2 linked regions of the Homo sapiens genome follow. The protein of the gene in region 1 purifies or fractionates together with the protein of each later gene. This does not show direct contact. Each region holds a gene or a part of one and is shown on either strand. Other genes may lie near its edges. The genes, in order: PACS2 and WDR37.

Region 1 (14,864 bases):
AGAATGCGGAGAACTGCCCTGGGGACCGGTTAGGTGCCCCATGCTGCAAGCGCCCCAGGAAGCTTGGAAACATTTAGGACTGACTGACAAGCTCAAAGAGTCAAGCAAGGGCGGCCAAGGGGCACCAGTGCCCTCAGAGCACCCACACTGGGCACCCAGCACCAGCTTCCTGTGCCCAGGGTCCTCTGTACTCCTCATTCAGCCCTGCAAGGCAGGACCCTCACTCGCACCGCGCCAAAGAGGACGCTGGAAACGTGCAGTGATCTCCGCTCTGGCTGTAAACAGGGAGAGGCTGTGGGCTTGCCCCTAGACCTGACTCCAGCACACAGCAGCAGAGCGGGGCCCAGGCTGGGGGTGTGGGGCAGGAACATTCCTTCATGGGGGCCCCAGAGAGCTGGAAAGTAATGTAGGTGTTGCACTGAAATGAGAGAATTGCTTTAATCTGAACTGAACGTGCTCGTAACACTTAGACCAGGAAGGATTTCCTTTTCTCAGGGCCTGAGAAAAATGACCTGACCAGCAGGGTTAGAGTTTTGAAGGACACGCCTAGGCACCTGCAAACTTCCCCTCCTGGAGGCTTTCTTCATTCATGGTGTCTTTTGTTTTTGGGTTTGTTTTGTTTTGTTTTGTTTTGTTTTGTTTTTGAGACACAGTCTTGCTCTGTCCCCCAGGCTGGAGTGCAGCGGCGCCATCTCGACTCAGTGCAACCTCTGCCTCCCAGGTTCAAGCGATTCTCCTGCCTCAGCCTCCCGATTAGCTGGGATTACAGGTGCATGCCACCATGCCCGGCTAATTTTTTGTATTTTTAGTAGAGATGGGGTTTCACCATGTTGGCCAGGATGGCCTCGATCTCCTGACCTCGTGATCTGCCCACCTCAACCTCCCAAAGTGCTGGGATTATAGGCATGAGCCACCACACCTGGCCTGTTTTTTGGGGGTTTTTTTTGAGACTGAGTCTCGCTGTGTCGCCCAGGCTGTAGTGCAATGGCACGATCTTGATGTACCGCAATCTCTACCTCCCGGGTTCAAGCAATTCTCCTGCCTCAGCCTCCCAAGTAGCTAGGATTACAGGCACCTGCCACTGCGCCCAGCTAATTTTTGTATTTTTAGTAGAGTCAGGGTTCCATCATGTTGGCCAGGCTCGTCTTGAATTCCTGACCTCAAATGATCCATCTGCCTTGGCCTCCCAAAGTGCTGGGATTACAGGCGTGAGCCACCGTGCCAAGCCCCATCGTGTTCTCATCTGTGGTGCTTTGACATCTTGGGGTCTCGTGGACCTAGAGAGGGACTCCCCTCCCAGGGTTAGCTAATTCCTAGAGACAGCTGACCACTTGCCTCTGAGTATGCCTTATTTACTTTATTTTTTCTTTTTTTCTTTTTTTTTTGAGGCAGGGTCTCACTCTGTCACCCAGGCTGGAGTGCAGTGGTATGATCATAGCTCACTGTCGTCTCAAACTGCTGGGCTCAAGAGATCCTTTGGCCCCAGCCTCCCAAAGTACTGAGATCCCAGGCTTGAGCCACCGTGCAGGCTGAGCATACCTTTGATATGCAGAGCAACCATCATGAGTCCCACCTGCCTCCTTTCATCAGGCTCCTGCATTCCTGAACACTAGCCCCCTGCCCTAAATCACCCCAAGGCCAGGTACCAGCTAGCTAGATACCACCCCCAAGCCCAGAGCCCACTGAAATGACCCAGTTCTAATTCTGCTCAGCTTGCCTCCTCTGCCTTGCCTGGAAAATGGCAATAAAGGCTCTTGCCCACCCTTTCCCTTCACCCCCTCCCTGTCCTGACTGGCCCTGGGTGCTTCCCCACGTGCCCCTCCTCCTGGGAACTGTGAGTAATAAACTCCTCTTTCAAAGGCGGTTGTCTCTGTGTCTGTCATCTTATCACATTTGATCAAAATAACTCCTGGGTACTCAATAGCCCTGTCCCCCCATGCAGCAGTCAGCAGGGGAAATGAGAAAGCAAGCTTCTATGGCCTTCTCACCTTCTCACCTGCTGCCTGGCCTTGGGCAAGTGCTTCAATCTCTCTAGGTTTCTACTTCCTCATCTGCATAACAGGGATAAGAATAGCCCACCCTAGCACTGCGGAGTATGATGGAGGACATGTGTCTGGTAGACAGACTGCTCAGAAGGCAAGTCCCTGTTCCTGTCTGTTCTCCGCAACTCGAGTGAGACTTGGTGAGGCTCCAGTCCACCTTCCACCACAGAAGTCAAGGGCCAGGCCAGGACAGTGGCTCACGCCTGTCATCCCAGCACTTTGGGAGGCAGAGGTGGGAGGATAGCTTGAGCCCAGGAGTTCGAGACCAGCCTGGGCAACAAAGTGAGATCCCTGTCTCTACAAAAAATTTAAAAATTAGCTGTGCGTGGTGGTGCGTGCCTCTAGTTCAGCTACTTGGGAGGCTGAGGCAGGAGAATCGCTTGAACCCAGGTGACTGAGGCTGCAGTGAGTTATGATCACACCACAGCACTCCAGCCTGGACCATAGAGTGAGACTCTGTCCCCCCCAAAAAAACAATTAGGCCGGGCACAGTGGCTCACACCTGTTATCCCAGCACTTTGGGAGGCTGAGGTGAGAGGATTGATTGAGCCCAGGTGTTTGAGACCAGCCTGGGAAATATGGCAAAACAGCATCTCTAACAAAAATACAAAAATTAGCCAGGTGTGGTGGTACATGCCTGTGGTCCCAGCTACTCGGGAGGCTGAAGAGGGAGGATTGCCTGAGCCCAGGAGACAGAAGTTGCAGTGAGCTGAGATGGCACCATTGTACTCCAGCCTGGGCACGACAGAGGCAGATTCTGTCTTTTTTTTTTTTTTTTTTTGAGATGGAGTCTTGCTCTGTCGTCCGGGCTGGAGTGCAGTGGTGCAATCTTGGCTCACTGCAACCTCCGCCTCCTGGGTTCAAGTGATTCTCCTGCCTCAGCCTTCTGAGTAGCTGGGATTACAGGTATGAGCCACTGTGCCCAGCTAAGTTTTGCAGTTTTAGTAGAGACAGGGTTTCACCATGTTGGCCAGGCTGGTCTGGAACTCCTGACTTCATGATCCGCCTGCCTCAGCCCCCCAAAGTGCTGGGATTACAGGCATGAGCCACTGTGCCCAGCCATGACTTTGTCTCTAAATAAATAAATAATTTTTTAAAACCCTTAGGGACCCAGCACAGTGGTTCACACTTGTAATCCCAGCACTTTGAGAGGCTGAGGCAGGAGGATGGTTTGAGTCCAGGAGATCTGGCCTACAGTGAGCCATGATGGCACCACTGCACTCCAGCCTGGTTGACAGAGCAAGACCCTGTCAAGAAAACAAAAGAAAAAAAAAGAAAAAGACAAACAAAACCTAACAAAACCAGAAATCCATCCTGCACGAAGAGCACTGAGGTTGAGTGTTGGTTGACACGTGTTGCGGTAATTGCTGTTCTGATGTCTGTGAATGTCCTTGGCTGATTTCTGTATTAGGGCCTGGGTGTTTTCCTTTCTTTTCTAATATTTAAGTTATGTCCTGGCTTATTGTGATGATATTCTATTGTGGGAAAGAAAGAAGTGTTAAAATTTATGCATCAAGGTCCCTCTTAATCTTGGGGCTCAGGATAACCACAGTCAAGAGGGGAGAGTTTTATTCCTGAATCCAGGTCATGCTGTGTTCAACTTTACACCCTGATTTGTCACACAATCACATATCTGAGAATTTCCCCATGTTGCTAAAACTGAGGCAGCGTTCCGTTTTGCTGGTTATTCCACATCCCATGGGGTGGATGTGCCAGGGCAAGTTTTGTCATTTCCCCTGGACTGGACATTCCTTTCTGTAGGTGTTGCTGTTTGAAATATCTCACACACCTGGACCTGTGTCCCTGTTGACATTTCCAGTGTCACCTGCAGGATGCCATGGGATACCCATGAGCCCAGGCAAATCTCCCAAGACGCTGCCAAGCCACTCTGCAGAGCTGCTCTGGGTCCTGCCCCAGGTGCTGTGTGAGGGAGCTGCGCTGCCTGCGCCCAACCCAGGAGGGGAGCAGCGTGCAGGACACCGAGGATGTCATCACGACCTTAGGTCTGTATTAGGTCTAGATTAGCCTGCATTAAGGAGAAGGTGGTGATGTGTGTCTTTTTTTTTTTTTTTTTTTTTTTTTTTTAGACGGAGTCTCACTCTCTTGCCCAGGCAGGAGTGCAGTGGCACAATCTCGGCTCACTGCAAGCTCCGCCTCCTGGATTCAAGCAATTCTCCTGTCTCAGCCTCCCGACTAGCTGGGACTACAGGCGCCCGCCACCACACCCGACTAATTTTTGTATTTTTAGTAGAGACGGGGTTTCAGTGTATTGGTCAGGCTAGTTTTGAACTCCTGACCTGGAGATCCACCCGCCTCGGCCTCCCAAAGTGCTGGGATTACAGGTATGAGCCACCGCACCCAGCCATGTGCATCTTTTTATAATTTACAATTCGTGATAGTAGTGACAACTGTCTCACTTATTCTTTTGTGAATCTTTTGTAGCTTCTCTAACCATTTTCCACTGGGAATTTTTTAGTGGTCTTATGGACTTGTATGATTTCCTTTGATATTAAGAATGTTACCCTAGTGAGCCAGGCACAGTGGCTCACGCCTGTAATCCCAGCACTTTGGGAGGTCGAGGCGGGCGGATCATGAGGTCAGGAGATCAAGACCATCCTGGCTAACACGGTGAAACCCCGTCTCTAATAAAAATACAAAAAATTAGCCAGGCGTGGTGGCAGGCGCCTGTAGTCCCCCCTACTCAGGAGGCTGAGGCAGGAGAATGGCATGAACCCGGGAGGCAGAGCTTGCAGTGAGCTGAGATGGCACCACTGCACTCCAGCCTGGGCGACAGACAGAGCGAGACTCTGTCTCAAAAAAAAAAAAAAAAAAAAAAGAATGTTACCCTAGTGAAACATTCAGTATTCTTACAAAGATCATCCTCAATAGTTTGTTGCGTTGGGTGAGGGTTCCCTTTGCACGTTTGGTTTTTTCAGGACGGGGCGCAGCCCCAGCCAGATGGCGCCCGGCTCTCCAGCCAGCGGCAGCTCACCCTGCTGTGGTTTGATTTTCCCTACACAATTAATACATGTTCATCATGGAGAAAATAGGAGATAAAGATAAGCAAAAAGGAGAAACCAAATCAATGGAATCCCCATCACACAGAGATACTTTCTTAACACTTTGGATTAATTTGTATCCTATCAATATTTTTCTATACCTGAAAATAGGTGTTTTATATGTATAATCACTAACATGTAAATACATACTGCACATGGACATGCATTTTCACATACATTTTTGTTTTCTTGAGACAGAGTTTCACTCTTGTCACCCAGGCTGGAGTGCAGTGGCACAATCTTGGCTCAATGGAACCTCTGCCTGCTGGGTTCAAGCGATTCTCCTGCCTCAGCCTCCCGAGTAGCTGGGATTACAGGCGCGCACCATCATGCCCCACTAATTTTTTGTATTTTTAGTAGAGATGGGGTTTCACTATGTTGGCCAGGATGGTCACAAACTCCTGACCTCAGGTGATCCACCCACTTCGGCCTCCCAAAGTGCTAAGATTACAGGCATGAGCCACTGTGCCCGGCCTTTTTATTTTTATTTTTTGAGATGGAGCCTGGCTCTGTCCCCCAGACTGGAGTGCAGTGGTGTGATCCTGGTTCACTGCAACCTCCACCTCCTGGGTTCAAGTGATTCTCCCACCTCAGCTTCCCAAGTCACTGGGATCACAGATGCGCACCACCATGCCCAGGTACGTTTTTGTATTTTTGTTAGAGATGGGACTTTGCCATATTGCCCAAGCTGGTCTTGAACTCCTGAGGTCACGGGATCTGTGCGCTTTGGCCTCCCAAAGTGCTGGGATTACAGGTGTGAGCCCCTGCGACTGGCCTGTTTTTAGCTACTTTTAACTCACTATTTCTGCCAGCTGTAGAATATTCTATCAGGTTCTATCATGGCTCACCTAACCCTGTTCTACTCTACAACCCCGGGGTTGATTCCAGGCCTCACTCTCAGCAGTTGAGCTGCTCTAAGGGTGACCGTGGGAACTGTCCACAGGTGCGGCTGCGGGTGCAGCGATCTCAGCGGTCTTAGAGCTCTTGGCCATCCCCCACATGGCTTCCCAGAAAATGCCTCCAGGAGGAGGGCCCTGCTGTACCTTTTTTGTGACCATTCCTCCTCAGCCTCAGTCATGGCCATGTGCTCCAACCATGGGAGTGGATGCGGCAGGGCCTGTCTAGGGGTTCGGCAGTTCTGTCCCTCTGCCATAGCATGGGCTGGGCAGGGACCTGGCCACGTGGGGCTGCTTCCTCAGCCCAGCTCCTGGCAGGAGAAGGAGTAGGGGCGCTGTGGGCTGGAGCCGCCAACTGACCAGTGCTGGCCCTGGAGGAGGCCCCTCCCCCACTCCCCGACTTCAGCAGGGCCTGCTGTGTGTCTGTGTCATCTTAGCCCAGGCTGAGGAGATGAATGCGTTTCCAAGCAGCCCATGGTCCTGGCGCCCGACTGGAAAAGCCTGAGCCTTCACCCTAGGTGGAGGGACCTAGCGAAGCCAGGCGGACAGAGGAAAGGCCTCGGCCCATCCTGTCCCATGACTGGGGGTTGGGGCTTCGTCTTTTTAATACCAATGGAATCCTAGCCAAGCATTCAGAACCTTGAAGCTTTAACTTCTTAAATAATAATAACTCCCACAACCTCCGGGGACCCCGGGCAGCACGTGGTAGGACCAGCTTTCAGGTTGTCCTCCTGAGACCCCAGGGCTCTGAAGGATCCTCTTCTTGGACCTCCTCCCCAACCGTGCCCAGCCACCCCAGTCATCCGAGAGGTTTGTCTCAAACCAAGTTCCTGCTTTAAAGAAAACGCTACCAGAGAAAGCACCTGTGCTCCAAACACGGGGGTGAGGGCTCACACCATGCCAGGGTCATAGCATGGGGAGGGATGCCTCCCAGCCTTCAGGGGATCTCCTCCTGTGACCCACAGCCCTCAAGAGAAGGACCAGCACAGCATCATTTTCCGACAGAGGAGGGCAGTGCAAATAACAAGTTCTGGCTAAAAAGTTACTCTGATCACCCAAGGGACATCTGTGCACTTGGAAAATACAGAAGACCACAGTCCCATCACCACCATCCCACCTTAAAAACAAACATAAACGTGGTCGCAGGCGTGACACATGGTGTGTTTCGTGTCCCTGCTTTCCTGCCTGGCAGAAGCATTGATGTAGACCCACCATACGGGTTCTTCGGGCCACTCTGGTACAGACTGTGTGGGTCATATCCCGACCCCTGGCAGCTGCATAACCTCACAGGCCGCCATCTCCTCTTTTGTCACTTGGGATGGGACAGAACTGTCACGTCCCTTAAGGGCTCACAACGGTGCCTGGCACAGAGGAGGGGCACCGCTCAATGGTGGCAGCTGGTGCCAAGCCCTGCTGTGCACGGCTTAGTCACCCCGCATCTCCTCACTTGACCCCCAGTTGTAGTCCCTGCCTGGGTTAGACGCTGGCATACACAGGCACCATGTGTCAGGCGGCCCATCCGTCTGACTGCAACTGCACGCTCGCCAGGTCCAGCAGCGCCGTACGCTCAGTTCTGGGGTCAATGGGTGCCTGTCTCCTGCCCTCCCATCACAGACAGCCTGTCCTCCTGGGGTATGGCTACCCCCTCTCTGGACATAGTCACTTCTCCCCCTACCCTGTCTCAAAGGTATGAGATCCACCGGCCCTCTGCCCGCCGAGCAGCTGGCCAAGGTCAGACAGACCCTCATGGCTCTCAGTGTACCACCTTAGAGGAGCCAGGGGCGCGTGGGAAACACAGAGTCCCTTGTTCTCTCCGAAGTGGGACCCTGACTTTAAGCAGTCGCAGCTGTTTGCAGTTCTAGATACAGGAGTTACAGCTGGAGGCTGAGCTCTCTCAACGGAGGAAGCAGCGGCATGAGGGCCTTTGCAGAAGGAGCTGACGGGGCACTGGGGTGGCAAGCCCCGTGGGCCAGGAAAGAAACCAGCTCCAGGTCAATTTGCTCGGGCTGGATTTGTTTCAGTAAAACTACTTGTAGACAAGACACAGGGCGAAGAGAAAAGCAACTGTAAACTAACTGTGAAACAAGGAAACAGAAGAGAGGCCAGAAAACCGTTTCCTAAATCTCGGCTTGGCATCTGGTGCTGGACCACAGCCGCTGCCAAACAGATGGGGGAAGCACCCTCCCTGAGCCCCAGAGCCTACACGTCGGGCCCCAGCGGCTCTAGCCATTGCCTCCTCTTTGCTTGGGTCCCCAAGTTCACTGTTAACCCCAGGGCCAGGAGCCAGCCTTGGCCCCAGACATTTGTTCTCCATTGTCCTGAGCACAACGCTGAAAAGCGGCGCTGAATAAGGATGCTGGGACGCAAAGAGGGCGCCCGGGGTCATCTGGAGCCCTGGAGGCTAAGCTCGGCAGCCTGGCGCCCCGAGTGGCTTCGAGTCCCCGCGACCGCCGCCAGGCCCGGCCACCTCCTTGCCACCTCCCTGCGTCCCGGGGAACCCACGCAGGGGGGCGCGAGGGAGGGGCTCGGGGACGGGCGGGGCCCGCACAGCCGGGCCAACCCAGCGGGGGTCGGCAGGAGACAAGGGGCGGCGAGGGCAGGGGGGCGGGGAGACTCGGGGCATGGCGGGGTGGAGGCGGGAAAGTGTCGAGGCCGGGGAATCCGCGCGTGGGGAGGTGGGCATCGCCAGGGCGACGATGAGCTTTCCTTAGGGGGCGGCGCCTGAAGCTGGCCGGGACCCGGTGGACCCCCACGACTCTCCCGGCCCTTGCCCGCGGCTCCCGGGGGGCGGGGCGGGGCGCCCCGGGCGGGGTCTGTGCGCAGGCGCGTGAGTGCGCGCTCTCGCGCACCGGCGGGCGGGGACGCCCCGTGAGGCGCCGCCGGAGGAAGCGCGCGCGCACCTCACTTCCGGCGCGCGCTGCGCCGGCGGCGATTGGACCCGAGGCGGCGAGCTGGCGCCCCGCCCAGCCAATCGGCGGCGCCGGCGCGGGTCGGAGGGCGCCGGGCGCGCGCGGGGCGGCCGGGGGCGCGCGGGGCGCGGGCGGGGCGCCGGGCGGGGCGGGGCGGAGCGGCCGCAGCTCGTCGCCGCCCGCGGGCCTGTCCGACGCCGGGGCCCGGCCCGTCCCCTCCGCCGCCCGGCAGCCATGTGACCGCGCCGCCGCCCTCCGCGCGCCCGGCCCGCCCGCCGCGCGTCCGCGGCCCGGCCGCAGCCCCAGGCCGCCGAGGGAGCGGCGGGGCCGGCGCCATGGCCGAGCGAGGCCGCCTCGGCCTCCCCGGCGCGCCCGGCGCGCTCAACACGCCCGTGCCCATGAACCTGTTCGCCACCTGGGAGGTGGACGGCTCCAGCCCCAGCTGCGTGCCCAGGTACGCGCCGCCCGCCGCGCTTTGTTCCCGCCGGGCACCTGCTGGGGGTGTCCTGGCCGCGGCCTCTGCGCGCCCCATCCCCGGCCCGGGTCCCCCAGCGGAGCCCAGGTCGCCCCCCGCGCCCCCGCCCGCCGGTTCGACGCGTGCAGCCGCCGCCCCCCCGCAGCTCCGGCAAGCGCGGCCCCAGCCCCCCAGGTCCCGAGCACCGGGGGCCGCGCTCAGCTTCCGAGGACCCGGTGCTGCTCAGACCCGGCGGGACCTTGGGGCTCCCGGGCGGCGCTCACCTGGCTCGCCGCAACCGCACCTGCACACCTGCCTCAATGCGGTGCCGGCCGGGGTGACGAGGGTGCTTCCTCTCTCGGGTACCACACGCTTCCTTTCGCGTTCGGCGACACTGTCAGACCTCGGCCTGGGAGCGACCCCCGGCGCACGGGGCGCGCAGGACTCGGTTGTATCCTCCGTCCAGCGCGCGGTGGAGATGCCCTGTCCTGCGGGGCGGGGTCGTCCTCGCGGGTACCTGGTTGGCGCTGTCTCTCATTTAGAGGCGTCGCCAAGCCAGTACTGCTATTTGCGCCTCCCAGTTGATCTTGCCATTGCGGAAGACTGGCTGTTCTGCACTTGGTAGGGGGGCGCCCGGTCGCCCAGCGGTAACGATTGGACAGGGTTTACCCTCCGGCCATAGCCCAGCCTTCCTTGGACTTGCAGCTTCCCTGAGTCTCCTGCTCAGTTTGAAACTTTTGTAATTTCTTCGTGACTTGGTAGTTCCTGCTCAGGAAGCTCCCAGGCTAAGGAGGAGAGAGACACGCTCTCCGGAAAAGTTCTGGTTCTAGAATAGACAGCAGGCGAGAAGAGGAGGCGGTTGGGGGTAGTGAGAGTTCTCCCTGGGGAGATGGGAGGGTGAGCGGACCTTCCAGGCACTGGAAGTGGCCAGTATGCCTGGAGGGGACCCCACGTGGCATTGAGTTGTTCCACCCCTAGTCAGCTGCAGGTGGGCCTCTCCGTGCTTTCCTGTGGCTCCCACAGCCTGCATCTCTGAGCGTGGTGTTGGAGTTGCAGAGCCGCTGGACAGTGGGGCTTGCCCTCCTGGAGCGCAGGGTTGGGACCTCGGGGCTTTGGTTTTGCTGAGTGGACAGGAAGGATGCCCACCCGGCACGACTCTTGCACCTGGCGGGGCCTCCCGAAGGACCCAGTGTCCATATGAGACCTAAGGGTCAGCATTTGCCCAAGGTCTGGGGCCGAGCACTGCAGATGTGCCTGCTTGCCTCTCTTCTGGGAAGTCTCTGGGGCCTCAAAGCCAAAGCCAGGAGCATCTCCCCAGGCCTGGCTGCTTCTCCATTCCAGGTCTTGGCGATTGCCCCAATGTCAGGTCCCACAGCCCCACAGCCCTTCTCCTGTCTGCCCCTCTGAGTCACTGCCTCACCCACAGCCCCAGAACCTTCATGCGGGCTGTTGGCGCTCCCCTGCTCCAGCACTGCAGCACATAGCCTGCCCTTGCTGAACCTCTGCAGCAGCTTCCTGGGGCCCTCCGAATGAGCAGCAAAGTCTTTAACCCAAGGGAGGTGGGGGCGTGTGGCAGGAGGGGCCGGGGGCCTTATCAGCCCCCCTGTGGAGCTGTGCTCTATTCTCCAGGGGTCTAGAAAGCCCACTCTGGTGTCTGTGGGGAGGGTATGGGTAGGGCGGGTTTCGAGAAGCCTGGTTAGGACAGGCGGGGGTAGATGGGGGCACCTGGGCTGGGTAGCACTAAGTGCTGGGGGGGGTCCCGAGCTCTGGCCTGGACAGGGTTGGGAGGAAGGGTAGGCAGGAGGACAGGATTTGTTCTGTTGGTGTGGAGTTAATGGGCGGAGGAGTTAATGGGCGGAGGGGCGAGTGGCGCAGCTGACCAGGTGGGCAGATGCAGTTTGTTCGTAGGACATGCTCAGCCTCATAATGAGCTCCTGCCCTTACCTGTCCTGGAACAGGGCCCCTCATAGGCGGGCTTGCCCCTAGCTTTGCTTTGTGCTTGTGCCGCCTGTCCGTGCATCCTCGGACAGTCTGCTACTTAGTTTTGCTTTGTTCCTCCTGAGTTCTTCTGTACTCCTCACTTTTGCCCAGCCATGAAGCTTCTGGGCTGCGTGTGTGCTGATGCCTTTCGGCGTGTTCACTGCTGCGTACTATTCACTGGCGTGACAGTACCTCGGCTTTGCTTCTGTCAAGGGACCTTGGCTTGTTTCCAGTTTTTTGGTTAATTACAAGCCCCGTGCTGCTGTGGACATCGTGTGCCAGTCTTCTGCGTGTGTCTTTCTGGATGGGCAGGGCCTGTCTTAAGCATGTACCGCCAGCTACCAGGATTTATGGTGGGGGTGTGCACGCACTCAGCGTTACTGCTGGGCAGTTTTCCAGAGTGGTTGTGCCTGCTCCGGCCCCCACTGACAGGGACGAGAGTCCCCACTGCTCCACATTTGTGCCAACACTCATTTGACTTAATTTTTGCCAGTCTGGTGGGTGTGAAGTGGTATCGTGGTTTTAACTTGAATTTCTCTGATTACTAATTTAGGCCATTTGTACTTCCTTGTCAGTGAAATTCCTGTTCCTTTGCCAGTTTTTTTTTCTCTTTTTTTCTGCTTGAGTTTCAGCAGTTTCTTTAGAGATAGTCATCCTTTCTCGGCTGTGTTGAGGATGTCCCCGTCCAGTTATGAGCGAGTCTTTGCTCTCTGAGCAGCCTCTGGGTGCACTCCCCGTGTCAGCCTGGTGGAGTGTGCACATTGACTGTTTGCCAGGCTGGGGTGCTGGTCTCGTTTCGGTTCTCCTTCTGGGAGGCAGCCGGAGAAGTCTGCCCCCGGGAGCTTGAACTGGGCATGCTGGGCTGTTGTTGGGGAGGCCTGTGCTCCGGGTTTCCTTGCGACGCTTTTGGCTCAGCACTGTTACACACGGTGCTCCTAGGTGGTCCACGGGGTATGCGTCAGTGCCTGTCTGTGGCCTCTGCCTCCTGGGTTCCCAGAGTGTCCTCCTGGTGCCCATGTCCCTGAGCGCCCCCACCTGCTCTTCAGCAAGGGCTGGGCTGCTTTGTACCTTGCCCTTCCCACTTGATTGTTTTTTCGGTTGATGTTTATTAATTTGTTTTTATTTATGTATTTTGTTGTTGTTGTTGCAGAGACAGGGTCTCCCTATGTTGCCCAGACTGGTCTTGAACTCCTGGGCTCAAGTGATCCTCTCACCTCGGCCTCCCGAAGTGCTGAGATTACAGGTATGAGCCCCTGGGCCTGGCCATCTGTTTGGTTTTTAGAGACAGAGCCTCACTTTGTGGCCCAGACTGGGGTGCAGTGGCTTGATCATGGCTCATTGTAACCCCTAAAACCTGGGCTCAAGCAGTCCTCCCACATCAGCTTCCTGAGCAGCTGGGACTACAGGTGTACACCACCATGTCTGTCTAATTTTTTTGTTTTGTTTTGTTTTTTTGAGACAGAGTCTCACTCTGTCACCAGGCTGGAGTGCAGTGGTGCAATCTCGGCTCACTGCAACCTCCGCCTCCCTGTTTCGATTTTCCTGCCTCAGCCTCCCAAGTAGCTAGGACTACAGGCGCCTGCCAGCATGCCCGGCTAATTTTTGTATTTTTATTTTATTTATTTATTTATTTATTTTTATTTTATTTTATTTTATTTTGAGATGGAGTCTCGCTCTGTCACCCAGGCTGGAGTGCAGTGGTGCTGTCTCGGCTCACTGCAAGCTCCGCCTCCTGGGTTCACACCATTCTCCTGCCTCAGCCTCCCGAGTAGCTGGGACTACAGGCGCCCGCCACCACGCCCGGCTAATTTTTTTTATATTTTTAGTAGAGATGGGGTTTCACCGTGTTAGCCAGGATGGTCTCAATTTTCTGACCTCGTGATCCGCCCGCCTCAGCCTCCCAAAGTGTTGGGATTACAGGCGTGAGCCACCACGCCCTGCCTATTTTATTTTTTTGAGAAGCTCTGTCGCCCAGGCTGGAGTGCAGTGGCACGATCTCAGCTCACTACAACCTCCACTTCCCGGGTTCAAGCAATTCTCCTGCCTCAGCCTCCTGAGTAGTTGGGACTACAGGCGTGCACCACCACGCCCAGCTAATTTCTGTATTTTTAGTAGAGACAGGGTTTCACCATGTTGGCCAGGATGGTCTCGATCTCTTGACCTCGTGATCCGCCCGCCTTGGCCTCTGAAAGTGCTGGGATTACAGGCGTGAGCCACCACGCCCAGCCAGAATTATCTTTTTAAGTTTCACACAAAGCCACATTTGGTTTATAATTGGAAGTTCTTTAACTCTGTAGAGCAGGTTGGGGAGAATTGACGTTTGTGTGGTACTGAGTCTTCTCATTCATGATCAAGCTATTTACTTAGGTCTTGAATGTATTTTGAGAGTTTTACAAGATTCTGCTGTCATGCATATCCTTTGTTACATTTATTCCTAGATGCTTGTATTTTAGAAGTCATAGTAAAAGTCAGCTTTTTATTATGTTTGTTGCTAACATATAGAAATTCAGTTGATTTTTCAAAGAAATCAGTGATTTTACTATTTTTAACCTAGTAACTTATCTATAGATTATTTTGTATTTTCAAAATGTATGTTTTGTCTTTTGCAAAAGACAAAGTTGTTTCTTTTCAATCCTCATACTTTTCTTTCTTTCTCTTGCCTGACTGTGCCAGTTGTCATAGTACAGTGTTGAATATGGTTGGTTGCGTGGATTACCCGTGTTCTGTCTTGACCTTAAGGAAGGTTTCCAGTGTTTTACCTTTAAGGACGATGTTTGCTGCAACTTTTTGTGGATAGCCTTTATGCACTTAAAAAGTCTCATCCTATTCATGACTTGCAAAGGCTTTTTAAAGAAATCATTATGAGTGGATGTTGAATATAATCAAGTACTTTCATTAAGAGGATTATATAATTTTTATCTTTTCATTACTATTGTGGTAAATTACATAAATTGATTTTATTTCTTTTCTTTTCTTTTTGAGACAGAGTCTCGCTCTGTTACCAGGCTGGAGTGCAGTGGCGTGATCTCAGCTCACTGCAACCTCTGCCTCCCAGGTTCAAGCAATTCCCCTGCCTCAGCCTCCCAAGTAGCTGGGACTACAGGTGTGCACCACCACGCCCAGCGAATTTTTGTATTTTTAGTAGAGACGGGGTTTCACCGTGTTGGCCAGGAGGGTCTCGATCTCCTGACCTTGTTATCCGTCCACCTCAGCCTCCCAAAGTGCTGGGATTACAGGCGTGAGCCACCATGCCTGGCCGTAAATTGATTTTCTAACATTAACCTATTCCTGGAAAAATACTAGTTTAAGCATGTTGTATTACCCTTTTTAAAAATTGGTGGATATATATTTATTTATGTATTTATTTTTTGAGACAGGGTCTTGCTCTTTTGCCTAGGCTGGAGTGCAGTGGTGTGACCATGGCTCAAGCAATCCTCCTGCCTCAGCCTCCTGAGTAGCTGAGACTACAGGTGCATGCCACTGGCCTGGCTAATTTTAAATTTTTTGTAGAGATGGGGTCTCAC
Region 2 (15,269 bases), on another chromosome or scaffold:
CAGGACGCCATTCCATCACAGGGCCACTCACACACCCACACTCAGACTGGGACAGTGAAGACACACCAGTTCACCTCACGTGCACACCTCTGGGATGTGGCAAGAACTGCAGCACCCAGAGAAAACCTATGCAGGTGTGGCGAGAACACGTAAACACCACAAAGACAGTGCCCCTGGCTGGGAGTCTTTTTCTCATCAATGTTACAAAGAAATGAATGAGCACCTGCTGTATGCAGTTTGAAAATTGAGAAGTATTTTTTAATAGCCTTTTCAAATTATCTTGGTTATTCTTTTTCGATACTACTACCCCAAAACACGAGTGGTGGATTTTCCAATTACTATTTGGAATTTGAAACCACTTCAATGGACATTTTGTACTTGTTACATTAAAACTCATTATTTTTGACTGTACCTCGAATGCCTATTTTCCTGTGCGTGATGTTGAAATGTCATGCATTGGTCATTTGGAAAATACTGATTTACTGAATTAAACAGATCTTCCAAATGCTAAAACATTTCATTATTCAATATCAATCACATTGTTAATATCACTAGTAATCTCATCAGAAAAGTTTTTAAGTATTGGGAAGCTAAAGTATTGTAGCACTGGCTTCCACATAAAGTCACCAAGTTCTTGATGGTTTTAAGTTTGTTTTTTATTTGAATTTTTGCATGAAAATTCCAACATTATTGGCAACAAGTACTGAGAATTATGTTCCTTGAAGTGGCACGAACATATTTATTTTCACGAAAATGTCTGCCAAATATCTAGGTTTGAATACCTCAGTTTATCTGTCAGTTCTTTCCAGTAAAAGCGGTATTTCATGAAAAAAGCAGCTAGTTAGTTCAGCTTACAACTCAAACGTTCCCACAAGTTCTTTTCCTGGAGACAACAATCATAATTCAGCATGTAGCAGAAGTGCTTTATGTGCATTTCCCATTTTGTTATAGAGAATATTAGATGAGTACTGAATGGTCGAGATGATTAAAGTTAATATTTTTTACTGCTAACCATCAGCTGAGCCTTCAATGAGTCATAATCTTTTTGCTGGTGGAGGGTTTTGCCTCAATGTTGATGGCTGTTGATCAAGGTGGTGCTTGAAAGTTGGGGTGGCTGTTGCAGTTTCTTAAAATAAGACAATAATGAAATTTGTCACGTTGATTGACAATTCTTTTCATGAAAGATTTTTTTTAAACCACAGGAAAACTTTTTTTTGAGACAGAGTCTCGTTCTTTCGCCCAGGCTGAAGTGCAGTGGTGCGATCTTGGCTCACTGTAACCTCCACCTCCTGGGTTCAAGCAATTCTCCTACCTCAGCCTCATGAGTAGCTGGCACTATGGGCGTGTGCCACCATGCCCGGCTAATTTTTGTATTATTAGTAGAGCTTGGGTTTCACCATGTTGGCCAGGCTGGTCTTGAACTCCTGACCTTGTGATCTGCCCACCTTGGCCTCTCAAAATGCTGGGATTATAGGCATGAGCCACCGCACCCGGCCAGGAAAACTTCCAAAGTTAGAGTCAATCCTCTCAAACCCTGCTGCTACTTCATAAACTAAGTCTATGGAGTATTCTGAATCCTTTGTTATCATTTCAACAGTGTTCACATCTTCACCAGGATTAGGTTCCATCTCAAGAGACCACTTTCTTTGTTCATCCACAAGAAGCAACTGCTTATCCATTCATGTTTTATTATGCTAGTGCAGTGATTCAGTTACATCTTCGGGCAGCCATAGCCTTACAAAATGTATTTCTTAAATAATGAGACTTGAAAGTCAAAATGACTTCTTGAGCTATGGGCTGCAAAAGGGATGTTGTGTTAGCAGGCATGAAATCAACATGAATCTCCTTGTATATCTCCATCAGAGCTCTTGGGTGAACAGGAGCACTGTAAATCAGCAGTAATATTTTGAAACGAAATCTTTTTTTTTTCCTGAGCAGTAGGTCTCAACAACAGTGGGCTGACAATATTTAGTAAACCACACTGTGTAAGTAGATGTGCTGTCATCTAGGCTTTGTTGTTCTATCTACACAGCAGAGGCAGACTAGAATTAGCATAACGCTTAAGGACTCTAGGATTTTCAGAATGATAAATGAGCACTGGCTTCAACATAAAGTCATCAGCTGCACTAGCCCCCTAGCAAGGGTCAGCCTGTCCTTTGGAGCTCTGAAGCCAGGCTTTGACTTCTCCTCTCTAGTTATGACAGTCCTGGGCGGCATCTTTTCCCAAAATAAGGTTGTTTCAACTCCAATGAAAACCTATTGTTTAGCAAAGCCGTCTTCATCAGTGATCTTAGGTAGATCTCCTAGATGACTTGCTGCTTTATCTTGCACTTGCACATTTTTTTTTTTGAGATGGAGTCTCACTCTGTTACCCAGGAGTGTGGTGGTGTGATCTTGGCTTACAGCAACCTCCAACTCCTGGGTTCAAGTGATCCTCCTGCCTTAGCCTCCTGAGTAGCTGGGACTACAGGCGTGTGCCACCACACCCAGTTAATTTTTGTATTTTTAGTGGAGGCAGGGTTTCACCATGTTGGCCAGGCTGGTCTTGAACTCCTCACCTCAAGGGATCCACTTGCATTGGCCTCCCAAAGTGCTGGAATTACAGGCATAAGCCACCATGCCTGGCCTATCTTGCACTTTTGTATTATAGAGACAGCTTCTTTCCTTCAACCTCATGAACCAACCTCTGATAGCTTCAGATTTTTCTTCTGTAGCTTCCTTACCTCTCTCAGCCTTCAGAAAACTGAAGAGAGTTAGGGCCTTACTCTGGATTAGGCTTTATCAGAATATTGTGGCTGGTTTAATCTATACAGACCACTCAGAGTTTCTCCATATCAGCAATAAAGCTGTTTTATTTTCTTACCATTTGTGTATTCACTGTAGGAGCACTTCAAATTTCCTTCAAGAACTTTTCCTTTGCATTCACGACTTAGCTGTTTCAACATGCCTTCCTCACCATGCTTAATCATTAATCATTTCTAGTTTTGATTTAAAGTAAGAGATGTGCAACTCATTCTTTTATGAAACAGTAGCCATTTTAGGGCTATTAATTGCCTGATTTTTTTTTTTTTTTGAGTCAGGGTCTTGCTTTGCTGCCCATGCTGAAGTGCAGTGGCGTGATCACAGCTCACTGCAGCCTCGAACTCCTAGGCTCAAGCAATCCTCCTGCTTCAGTCTCCCAAGTAGCTGGGACTACAGGCATGAGCCACCACCATGCCTGGCCCCTAATTTCAGTATTGCTGTGTCTCAAGGATAGGGAGGTCTGAGCAGAAGGAGAGAGATAGGGAGGCAGCTGGTCAGTGCAGTGGTCAGAACACATAAAACATTTATCGACTCAGTTTGCTGTCTTATATAGGGGTGGTTCATGGTGCCCCCCAAGCAATTATGACAGTAATATCAAAGATCACTAATCACAGATCACTATAACTGATTTAATAACGGAAACATTCCAAGAATTACCAAAATGTGAGAGAGACATGAAGTGAGCACATACTGTTAGAAAGATGGTGCTGACAGACTTGCTCCATGCAGGGCTGCCACAAACCTCCACTTTGTAAGAAACATATGATACCTGTGAAGTGCAATAAAGTGATACACATGAAAACAGTTGTGCCTGTTACATGACATATATACACACATATATATAACTTGAGAATTTAGGAAGCGACATGTCAAACAGCTTATAACACTATAGTGTACTATCCAAGTGTTTGAGACACAGTTAAAATAATCAGTAATGAGGACAATGACAGAATACCTAGTAAATCTTAATTCCCTATCAAACCATGCGCAAAAATGAGTCTTAGTAAATTCAGCATTGTTGCCCTATGTCAGGGACAAAGTACATGTATTTTGCATAGATGGACATGTGACAAAATAGAAATTGGTTTTCTGAGACAGGATTCTCCACAGCTTCTGCAGGAGGGAGAATGTAACTGGATACCAGGATTGCAATCATAACCTTTTATAATTTCGGCTAGTTTTGTGTCTTTTAAAAAAATTACATTGGATAGTTATTTCAGGATACAGTGTGTTATGGGTTAAATTGTGTCCCCCTTTCAAATTCATGTGTTAAAGACCTCACTTCCAGTATTTTATAATGTGACCTTATTTGGAAACAGGGTTGTTGTGGATATGATTAGTTAACATGAGGTCATATTAAAGTAGCGTCTACTGTACTCCAATATGACTGATGTCCTCATAAAAAGAACGCTAAGTGTGCAGACAGACACGGACATGGAAAACGTCATGTGAAGACTGGCGGGGGCATGCTGCCACAAGCCAAGGAATGCCTAGACGCTGAGATGCATTAACAGGCTCCCATCACAGCTCTCAGAAGGAATCAACCCTGCCAATACCTTGATTTGGGACTTCCAGTCAGACCTCTGACAATAAATTTGTTTAAGCTGCCTAGTTTGCAGTATTTTGTTCCTGCAGCCCTAGCACATCAACAGTGAAAAGAATATGGATTCTGATGCCAGCCTTTAGTCTTTGCCCTGCTGCACGATTATTTTTGACTTTTGACGAGTAATTTCCACATTCTCATGCTTAAAATTCAATTTAGAATAACTTTTACTTTATTGGATTCCTTTGGGGATTAAATTAGTTACAAAAGATGTAAAGCGACTGATCCTCAAAATGATTTCTTTCCCTTGTTTTGTGACATGTCATGCTCTCAGTTATTTTCAGTGACTTTTATGGAATCCTAAATATATCAACTTAAAAAATTACATTAGCGATATTCTTGGTGTTACCTGACTGTGGTGCGGTCCAGAAAAATAAAACCACCTGTTAGAATGCGGGTTAATTAGATGGGACACTGCGATTTACAAAGCTTTCTATTTGCTGCCATGCCCAGTACAATGTCTTTGCATACTAGGTACTAAATAAAATTATGTTACTTAAATGTCACAACCTCTAAAAGTTTAAAAAATGACTTCTCTAAAAACTCAAATATTTTTTTCCTTGGCGTTCCTCTTACAGAATTGTTTTTAGTGATAAAGTTTTATTAATATACTTAATGCAGAAATAACTTCACTTCTTTTTTTTTTTTGGTAATCTGGATCCCCTAAATAGAATGCTAAATTTGTTTCTTGTGCAACAAACAAGTTACCACTTCTGACTCTTCATCTTGAGCTTCCTTATTTTTTTTTGGAGACGGAGGCTCGCTCTGTCCCAGGCTGGAGTGCAGAGGCGCGATCTCGGCTCACTGCAACCTCCGCCTCCCGGGTTCAAGCGATTCTCCTGCCTCAGCCTTCCGAGTAGCAGGGGTTACAGGCGCGCGCCGCCACGCCCGGCTAGTTTTTGTATTTTTAGTAAAGACAGGGTTTCACCATGTTGGCCAGGCTGGTCTCGACCTCCTAATCTCGTGATACGTCGGCCTCGGCCTCCCAAAGTGTTGGGATTACAGGCGTGAGCCACCGCGCCTGGCCTTGAGCTTCCTTTTTAAAGGAAGGAGCAGGAATGTTAACCTACACAGAAAAAAAAAATGCTTTCACGCTCTTGATTTACTCTAGGTGGGCTTCAAATGCGCGGTTAGCGCTTTCTGTAGAGCGTTGAGACGGCTGTTTACGTAAAGACCATCATGCGACGTTTCCAACCTAGATTCTAAGAAAAAAGCGGCCCAAGTCCCACCTTTCGCAGGGAACAGCTGATTCTGTTTTTCCTTCCCAGCCAATGGTGATCAAAAGCTTCAGGACGCTGGTGAGTCACTGCGGAGGAGCCGAACACTGACCGCGCCGTCCCCGCCAGGCTCCCGCGCGGCCGGCACCGCGGCCCTGAGCGCAGGCGGCCCCGGGTCTCAGGCCTCAGGCGGACCGCGCCCCGGGCTCGCAGCCCTCCCGCCCCGGCTGCCGGGCTACGGGGCAGATGGACTCGGAGCGCCCCGCCGGTGAGTAGCTACGACCCCCGAGGCCACCTCCCGCGAACCGCTCGGCGGCAGGAGTACGTGACCAAGGGTGGGGGCGTTGGCCCAGCAGCCGAAGGGGTCTTCAGCGCGCCCAGACCCCTCGGGGCTGCGGGGCGGAAGCCGGGGCGTGACTTCCGGCGCCGCCGGGTGTGGGGCGGAGGTGTGGGGCGGCTTCCGGAGAACCCAGCGGCGCGGGACTGGGGCGGGACTTCCGGCGACACCGGAAGTGCATTAGCGCCAGGTTGGGGTTGTGGGGTCGCGTCAGTGCGGAGACAGCGGTGTCCTGCGCGTCTTCGGGTCAGTACGGGGGGCCGCGTCGTAGGGACTCACTGGCGGTGCGCGACCTGGGCTGGCTCCGGGGGTGGCGGGCGCAGCTGCTGTGACAGGTGAGTGCCGCCATCTTCCTACCTGTCAGGCGCCGAGTCGTTCCCCGGATGCCCCGAAGAGGAGTCGGGACACTGCAGGGCTCAAGGGGGTGCAGGGGCAGTCGGGGCATAGTGGCGGATGGGGTGCAGGTGGGCTTGGAATGCAGAGGGTCCGTGGTGGTGCAGGAGGGGTCGGGTCCCTGGAGGACCCGTGGCGGTGCAGGAAGGGCCGTGGTGCAGAAGGGTTCAGGGTGCAAGAGAAGTCGGGGCGCAGGAGTAGTCCGTGGCGGTGCCAGAGGGACCAGGGTGCGGGAGGGATGGGGGCCCGGGGCGGTGCAGAAGATGTCGGAGTCCAGGAAGAGTCGGGGCGCTGGAGGGGTTGGGGGCAGAAGGGTTCGGCCCGGGGTCTCTCCCCGCCCCCTTTGCTTCGGCCTGGGCATCCCGGGGAAGTGCGTCTCCAGGGAAGCACTTGGGAGGCCCTTCAGAGAGGAGAATGGCCTTTCTTCTCTCCAAAGAGTGGGGATGGTCGGCTTCAAGAAGGGTGGTGAGTGTGGAGTGACGGATGCTGAAGTGATTAACACAGCGCCATGATATTGTTCCCCTTTTGAAGACTTCCTTTTCCTTCCCTTCCCCCTGAAAGCAGCCACCGCTGGAGGGAAACATTTTAAGACAGCTGTTCACCGGAATAACACAAGAGCAACAATAATAATGTACTCATTTACTAAACCAAGTTGAATAAATACATTTTTCCAGGTTGTGAGTGAAAATAGCTTAAGGTCTGCCAGGTTTTTAGAGATTTTGTCATTTAACTTAAACGCTAAAACATTCGTCCCTTGAAGCGGATACCATTATAGAAAAGTGTTAATTGCTTGGAAGTTTCATTTATTGAAGTTCAAGTGTTTTTCTCTTAAATTCAGTATGTTGGCCTGTGAGTTACGGTCATAAAAGTATTGCAGGAATTATTTACCTCTGAATGAGAAAGCTCAAGATAGTTATATCTCCAGGAACTTTCTTCGTCTTCTGAACTTCCCCCAACCCCAGCAGACACACACACTGTTCTGGTTACTTTCCTGATCAAATTCGAGTCTTTCAAAATAGCTTTTGATATGTCCCAGGAGTTAAACACGGTATGTAAATATGAACTCACCAATGTGGAACAAATGGAGTGATCTGTTATCCCCTGGGTTTAGACGCTGCCTTTCTATTAATACTGCTCACAGGAGACAGAGTAGGGACTCGTGTGCACTGGCCACGTCTCAACAGCAGTGTGACCTTGGGCAAGGCCTTCCTAAGTCCCGACTCCCTGTCCTCTAACATGGTGTTCATATCAGCCTCATTTTCTTACTGGGAAGGTTACGTTATGTAATATATGCCAGCCATTTTTGCAAAGTGCTGTATACAGGAGATCTTGAGTGAGTGTGTTTCCCTCCTCCTCTTTTTGGGTAGCTATGTTAGGCTGTTCACTTTGGGCATTTGCCCTGAACTAAAATCCCTAAGTCCCTTTCCCCAAGGTGAAACTAAGATAGAGTTTTCATATTTATCCTGTCTTATTCTTTTCAGGGAAAAGATTTTACATCTGTTGAATTTCATCCTTGGTTTAAAGTTGTTCTTTTAACTACTGAGATCTTTTGAAAATCTTGATGGCTATTTATCTGATTAATGGTATTTCCTAATTGATTGTCATCCACAGAATTGATGGTGTATGTATTCCATGCCTTCATTTCGTCAATGACAAAACATTTTAAGCAGGTTAATACTGATGACAGATTTCTGAGGTTGCCTGTAGAGACCATTCTCTTCCTCGATATTGCTCAGAAGTTGAATTTGGTGTCTCAGCCCACTAGGAATTCGTCTAACAGTGTTATTACGATAAAATGTTACTACAAACTTGATTAAACTTCTGGTGGAAATTCCATCACATTTTATGCAATTTTCAATTTATTTCTCCAATTTATTTTTAATGCCACATGGACATTATATTCCTTAACCATTCTTTTGCATGTGATTAACATTTGTGAAATTAACCACTTAAGCAAGTGTTTTTGCTTTGATGAAAGAAAAATGTTTAAAATCCTACTGGATATGAAACTGAAAGTAATGTTTTGTGTTTTTTGTTTCAAATGAAAGTGTAAATTAAGAATTTGTTGGCAGGGCGTGGTGGCTCATGCCTGTAATCCCAGCACTTTGGGAAGCCGAGGTGGGCAGATCACCTGAGGTCAGCAGTCCAAGACCACCCTGGCCAACATGGTGAAGTCCCGTCTCTACTAAAAATACAAAAATCAGCTGGGCATGGTGGCGGGCACTTGTAGTCCCAGCTACTCAGGAGGCTGAAGCAGGAGAATCACTTGAACTCAGGAGGCAGAAGTTGCGGTTAGCCGAGATCACGCCACTGCCCTCCAGCCTGGGGAGACAGAGCGAGATTCTGTGTCAAAAAGAAAAGAATTTGTCGTATTGCTGTTTCAAGCTACTTTGGTTATGTTATCTGCCTTCCTCAAATTATACACACTTAGGAGAATGATAATTTCTATAGCTACAAATTAATTAATATTGGAAATATTGAAAAGAATCTGGCCAGGCGCAGTGGCTCATGCCTGTAATCCCAGCACTTTGGGAGGCTGGGTCAGGTGAATCATGAGGTCAGGAGTTCAAGACCAGCCTGGCCAGGATGGTGAAACCCCGTATCTACTGAAAATACAAAAAATTAGCCAGGCGTGGTGGTGGGTGCTTGTAACCCCAACTACTCAGGAGGCTGAGGCAGAGAATTGGTTGAACCCGGGAGGTGGAGGTTGCAGTGGGTCGAGATCGCGCCACTGCACTCCAACCTGGGCGACAGAGCGAGACTCTGTCTCAAAAAATATATATATAAAAGAATCTTTTGAGAAAGAGCAGAAAGCTAAGTGTTCATTGATGCTGTTTAATATTACAGCATTTCTGTCACGCAGGCTGGAGTGCAGCGGCATGATCTCAGCTCACCACTGCCTCCACCTCCCAGGGTGGAGCAATTCTCGTGCCTCAGCCTCCAGGGTAGATGGGAGGCGTGTACCATCACGCCCAGCTGATTTTTGTATTTTAGTAGAGACGGGACTTCACCATGTTGGCCAGGCTGGTCTTAAACTCCTGACCTCAGGTGATCCGCCTGCCTGGGCCTCCCAAAAGGCTGGGATTACGGGCATGAGCCATCATGCCTGGCCCAATATTACAGCATTTCTAAAGATGAGGAATTCAGCTTGCTAACACAGTGTGTTTATGGGTTTCATTAATTAGTCGAATGTTTGGCCAGTGCCTGCTGTGTGTAGAGCACTGTGCTGCATCACAGCTGTGTGCCTGTTGTTCTGACTGCTTACAAGCAGTGGGGTGTATTACGTACACGGCAACATATACTAAGGGCAGGTGAACTGGACAGACTAAATGAGTCAGGAGTTCAGAAGGAGCGTTTATTCTGTTAAATCCATGGTAGGATAAAGAGATTGAATTTTTAGAGGGGACTATTTATAGTTTCTTGAAAATAATGTTTTATTGAAAACCAGAAGGACATTTAATCTCCATAAGCCTTCTTTGTAATATGGTAATCTGTCCAATAATATTGGGTAAATGTGAATATTTTGAAGGAAAATAATTACGTTTTGGAATCTCAGGTTTCTCTTTGCTTGTATTTAGGTAAAACAGTGCATAGAGGTTAAAGAAGGTTATATTTGGAGTGAAGAAGTTTGTTTTTTCTCTTTACAGTTCTATAATCAGTTTATTAGTGTTTAGTCTGTTAAATACAATCGGGTGCCACATAACAAATGATGTTTTGGTCAACAACAGACCTCATGTAAGATGGTGGTCCCATAAGATTGTAATACTCTATTTTTACTGTACCTTTTCTATGTGTAGATATGTTTAGGTACACAAATAGATACCATTGTGTTACAGTTGTCTGCAGTATTCAGTACAGTAACATGCTGTGCAGGGTTGTAGGCTAGGAGCAGCAGGCTGGGCCATCTAGCCTAGGTGTGGAGTAGGCTGTGCACCTAGCTTTGTGTAAGTGTACTCTGCGATGTTCCCACAGTGACGAAATCACGTAACGATGCATCTCTCAGAACCTGTCCCCATCCTTAAGTGATGTATGACTGTGTTGAAAGGCTCTTAATTGGATTTGGGAACTCTGTCTCATAGGGATGTTATGAGGATTAGTGACTCTTTGTATTTATTGATCCATTTGAGCCTTACAGCAATTCTTTGTAGTAGCTCTTCAGCCTCTGGTAGATCTGCCAGTCCACCAACTTTCTTCCAGTATCTCTCCATTAATTCTTTCTGTTTTCACTTCCCTTCCTGTCTATTTTAGATTCCATGGTATACCATTTCAGTAGTTTTACAAACACCTGCCACTTCCTTGTCCCTCTTCCCATGATACCAACCTGAAAACCCCCTAAACTGGTGATTAAACATTTAAATAAGATTTATGCTACGCCGGTTGAGCATCCTAATCCAAAAATTCAAAATCCATAACATGACACAAGTGGAAATTTCCACACCTTACCTTGTGACAGACAGGTTGTAGTCAAAATGTGGGTGCGCAACATAGTTTATTCAGGATCCCCTAGGGCAAAATAAAATTACCTTCAGGAGGCCTGCTGTGGTGGCTCAGGCCAGTAATCCCAGCATTTTGGGAGGCCGAGCTGGGCAGACCACTTGAGGCCAGGAGTTCGAAACCACCTTGCCAACATGGTGAAACCCCGTCTCTCTTAAAAATACAAAAATTAGCTGGGCATGGTGTTGGGTGCCTGTAATTCCAGCTACTTGGGAGGCTGAGGCAGGAGAATTGCTGGAACCTGGGAGATGGAGGTTGCAGTGAACCGAGGTTAACACCACTGCACTCCAGCCTGGGCAACAGTGGAGACGTCATCTCAAAAAAAAAAAAAAATTACCTTCAGGCTACGTGCATGAGGTATACATGAAACATAAATGAACTTTGAGTTTAGCCTTGGGTCCCATCCCTAGGATATCTTACTATGTATATGCGGATATTCCAAAATCTGAAAGCATCTGAATTCTGAAACACTTCTGGTCTTGAGCTTTTTTTTTTTTGGGGGGGCCAAGGACTGAGTTTCCATGGAGGATGTGGTGTGAAAGGAAGGAAGTGGTGATAGGACCAATACAGACACTGGGAAAAAATGTGGAGGGTGTGAATACAGAGATGATAAGATTACTCCAGTATGAAAAAATCTGTATTTGGTGCCAAGTTCCAGGGAGGTGATTGTAGGAAATGCATACATTTGGTTGTAGTTGATCAGCAGAAAAAGATTGCCGGCGGTATTGACTATTTTGTGAAGTGGCGAAGAAAGCAAGCTAAACCAAAGAGAACACCATGCAACTTACGGAGAGGCTGGAATAGCCAGTGAGATAAAATCAGTGATCCAAAACTTATAATTTTGATGAGAAAGGAAAGGTGATATTGTAATCTCTGCATTTTTGGTAACGAACTTGTAGAATGTCTGGAATGCATCAGAATGTTTCTACAGATGAAGTTCTTAAGAGAGGGAAGGGAAACCCTTTGCTGGTTTTATTTGCTTCATTTAACTGAAGATAGAGTCTCCCTTTTTCTCTGAGGCCATATCAGGACAGCTTTCACAGGCTTTTGATGTGGTTTCTTTTTTTCCTTTACAAAACATACTCCATAAACTACAAAGTAACTGTTTTATGTTGTAAAGCAAGACTTACTTCTCCTTTAAAAATAGGCCTACACATATGCAATTTGAGAATAAAAGATGATTCTTGGCTTTCTGCTTGCGGAAAGATGGAGACTTATTTTTCCTTATTCCTCCCATGAAGTACATCTAAAAACACTGGACATATATAAAACAAATGTAAGAGTGGGCCGGGTGCAGTGGCTCACGCCTGTAATCCAAGCACTTTGGGAGGCTGAGGCGGGCAGATCACAAGGTCACAAGTTAGAGACCACTCTGGTCAATATGGTGAAACCTTGTCTCCGCTAAAAATACAATAATTAGCCAGATGTGCTGTTGGGCACCTGTAGTCCCAGCTACTTGGGAGGCTGAGGTAGGAGAATTGCTTGAACCCAGGAGGTGGAGGTTGCAGTGAGCCAAGATTGTGCCATTGCACTCCAGCCTGGGGAACAGAGCGACACTCTGTTAAAAAAAAAAAAAAAGAGACTGAAAGATGGAGAAAAGAAGGTAGACTTCCTTCGTACATTGGGACCACAGAAATGACACCAAACTTAGTTCTGTGAGTTTTCTTTTTGCCTCATGTATCTCATATGTTGTGCTGGATAAGCTAGCAGCGCAGGTATAAAAGGACTCAGACAAAACAAGGCCCAAGAAAAGCCTGCTCTCTGTGTCTGAAAGACCAGGAAAGGGGCAGCCTACAAATCACAGAACTTTTCGATGGTAAGTACTTTCCTCCAGCTAAATATCACAGGAAACCCTGCAGCACCACCCTCACCCTGCTAATCAGAGAACTTTTCGGCGGTAAGTACTTTCCTCCAGCTAAATATCACAGGAAACCCTGCAGCACCACCCTCACCCTGCTAATCAGAGGCTGAGCAGGTACTTCAGATTCCCACTCATGACAAGCTGGGATGAGATGCTCCTCTCTGCAGGGTTGCTGTCAGAGAAGACTGGCTGAGGAGTTGGGGTTTTACTTCTGCTGGGTGGTGACAGAGCACAGCCTCCTTTCTGCTAGGGTATCATAAGAGGGACCTTGCAAAACTCAGGAACTTTACTGCTGCCCTGTGGTCATGAGGCCACCCCCCTGTGGTGTGGGGGAGACTGTATAGGGAGCAGCACGGAGGCAGCCCTGATTCAGCCTTGGTGGTGGGAGTGGAAGTTCGGCAGGAGGCTGAACTTTCCTTCTCATGCAGGGGTCCGTGGAGGCTGAGTGGGAATCTCAACTTCCACCTCACCGTCCACATCCACCTGGCAGAGGCCTGCTCTAACAGAAGACTTACATCAGATCCTGAGTCTGATGTCAGGATTTCAATGGAAAATCACTCATAGGAAAATCTCAACCTCAGTAAGAAAAGACCACTGATGCCAACGTAGAGATGACACAGAGTTTAGAATTATTTGACAAGGACCTTAAAGCAGCGATTGTAGAAATGCTTCAATAACCAATTAACATTCGAGACAAACGACAAATAGCCTCAGGAAGAAAATACAGGATGTAAAAAAGAAACACAAAATTTCAAAAGTGAAAAATAGAATATGTGAAATAAATTCAGTGGATGGCTTAGCAGCAGAAAGGAGAGGACAGACAAAAGAAGCTGTCAATTTGAAGATAGAACAATAGAAGTTACCCAATCTGAACAGCAGAGAGAAAATAGACTGGAAAAAAGTGAGCAGAGCCTCAGGGGCCCGTGGGACTTTAACAGAAGATGCAACATCTGTCATCAGAGGTCTAGAAAGAGAGAAGGACGGGGTGGGGGGAAAACGTGTCTGAAGAAATCACTGCTGTATGTTTCCTAAACTTGGCAAGCCATACACCTTCAGACGTAAGAAGCAGCATAAACCCAGAGAAGATAAACACAAAGATGCTAAGACACATCCAGGCCAACTTCTGAAAACTGAAGACAGAAGCATAGTAAGAGAGATACCACTTGACCTGTAGTGGGAAACAATTTGAGTGACAATGGATCTTTTTTTTTTTTTTTTTTTTTTTTTTTTTTGAGATGGAATCTTGCTCTGTCACCCAGGCTGGAGTGCAGTGGTGTGATCTCAGCTCACTACAACCTCTGCCTCCCAGGTTCAAGCAGTTCTGCCCTAGCCTCCCAAGTAGCTGGGATTACAGGCATGCCACATCACGCCTGGCTAGTTTTGTATTTTTAGTAGAGACGGGGTTTCACCATGTTAGCCAGGCTGGTCTTGAACTCCTGACCTCAGGTGATCTGCCCGCCTCGGCCTCCCTCACGCTTGCTGGAATTACAGTCATGAGCCACTGTGCCTGGCCTGACAGTGGATCTTATCAGAAATTGTGGAGGGCATAAGGAAGTGGCAGGACATTTTTTTCAGGTGCTGAAGGAAAAGGACTATCAACTCAGAATTTTATATCAAGTGAAAACTTCCTTCACATGATTTATCTCCAGCTGACCTACTCTATGAAAATAACAAATAAAGGAAATTCTCCAAACAGAAAGGAAATGACAAAAGAAATGTGGGAACATCAGGAGGGAAGAACAAAGAATGGACAGCAAAAATATCGGTCAATTTAGTATTCGTTTATTTTCTAAATTGTGTTTGGAATTTGAAGCATAACCGTGGTGTGGTTCTCAGTGTATGTGTAGGAAATATTTGTGATTACGTTATAAATGGGGAAAGGTAAAGAAGCATAGAGGAAAGTAAGATTTGTATACTTTATGTGAACTGGTAAAATGTTGATAATCAGTAGACTACAATAAGCTGTAAATGTATAATGTAAAACCTAGAGCTACCACTAAAAAGTTATACAAAACAGGCAAACTCAGAAATACTGTAGGTAAATAAATATGAAATTATAAAAAATGTTTACCCCACGAGAAGGCAAAAAAGAGAATAGAGGGAGAGAGAATGAATGATACACCATGAACAAGTGCAGTTTATTTTGTGGCTACAAGGTTGGATCAATGTTTGAAAGTCATGAGTGTAATTGGTCCTGTCAGTAGGTAAAAAAAAAAAGCTACTAGGAAAAAAACATGATAGAATTCAGCACTCATTCGTGAAAGAAACTCAGAAAATGAATGATAGAGGGAAACGTTTTCAACTTGATAAACAGCACCTACAAAAAAATCTATAGCTGGCATCAAAGTTAATGGTGAAACACAATATTTTCACCCGAATATTCAGGGCAAAGCAAGGGTGTTTGCTGTCACTATAGTAATTTAAGATAGTACTGGAATTTCTAGCCAAATCAATAAGGTAGTAAAAGGAAATAGAAGGCTTACAAACCACAAAGGAAGAAATAAAACTGTCCTTTTTTTTTTTAGATGACTTAATAGTTGACATAGAAAATCCCAAGGAATC

Evidence for each region.
Region 2: the proteins of PACS2 (region 1) and WDR37 purify together in Homo sapiens (affinity purification with mass spectrometry; 4 studies listed by BioGRID and IntAct, with this or other methods). This does not show direct contact.

What each region holds. Positions count from the first base shown.
Region 1 is NC_000014.9:105,305,678-105,320,541, forward strand, and holds the start of PACS2 (phosphofurin acidic cluster sorting protein 2), read left to right. Parts: upstream 1-9,070; 5' UTR 9,071-9,241; coding exon 9,242-9,360; intron 9,361-9,644; exon of another isoform or gene 9,645-9,912; intron 9,913-14,864. UniProt on the Homo sapiens protein: Multifunctional sorting protein that controls the endoplasmic reticulum (ER)-mitochondria communication, including the apposition of mitochondria with the ER and ER homeostasis.
Region 2 is NC_000010.11:1,050,675-1,065,943, forward strand, and holds the start of WDR37 (WD repeat-containing protein 37), read left to right. Parts: upstream 1-5,710; 5' UTR 5,711-6,294; intron 6,295-15,269. UniProt on the Homo sapiens protein: Required for normal ER Ca2+ handling in lymphocytes. Together with PACS1, it plays an essential role in stabilizing peripheral lymphocyte populations.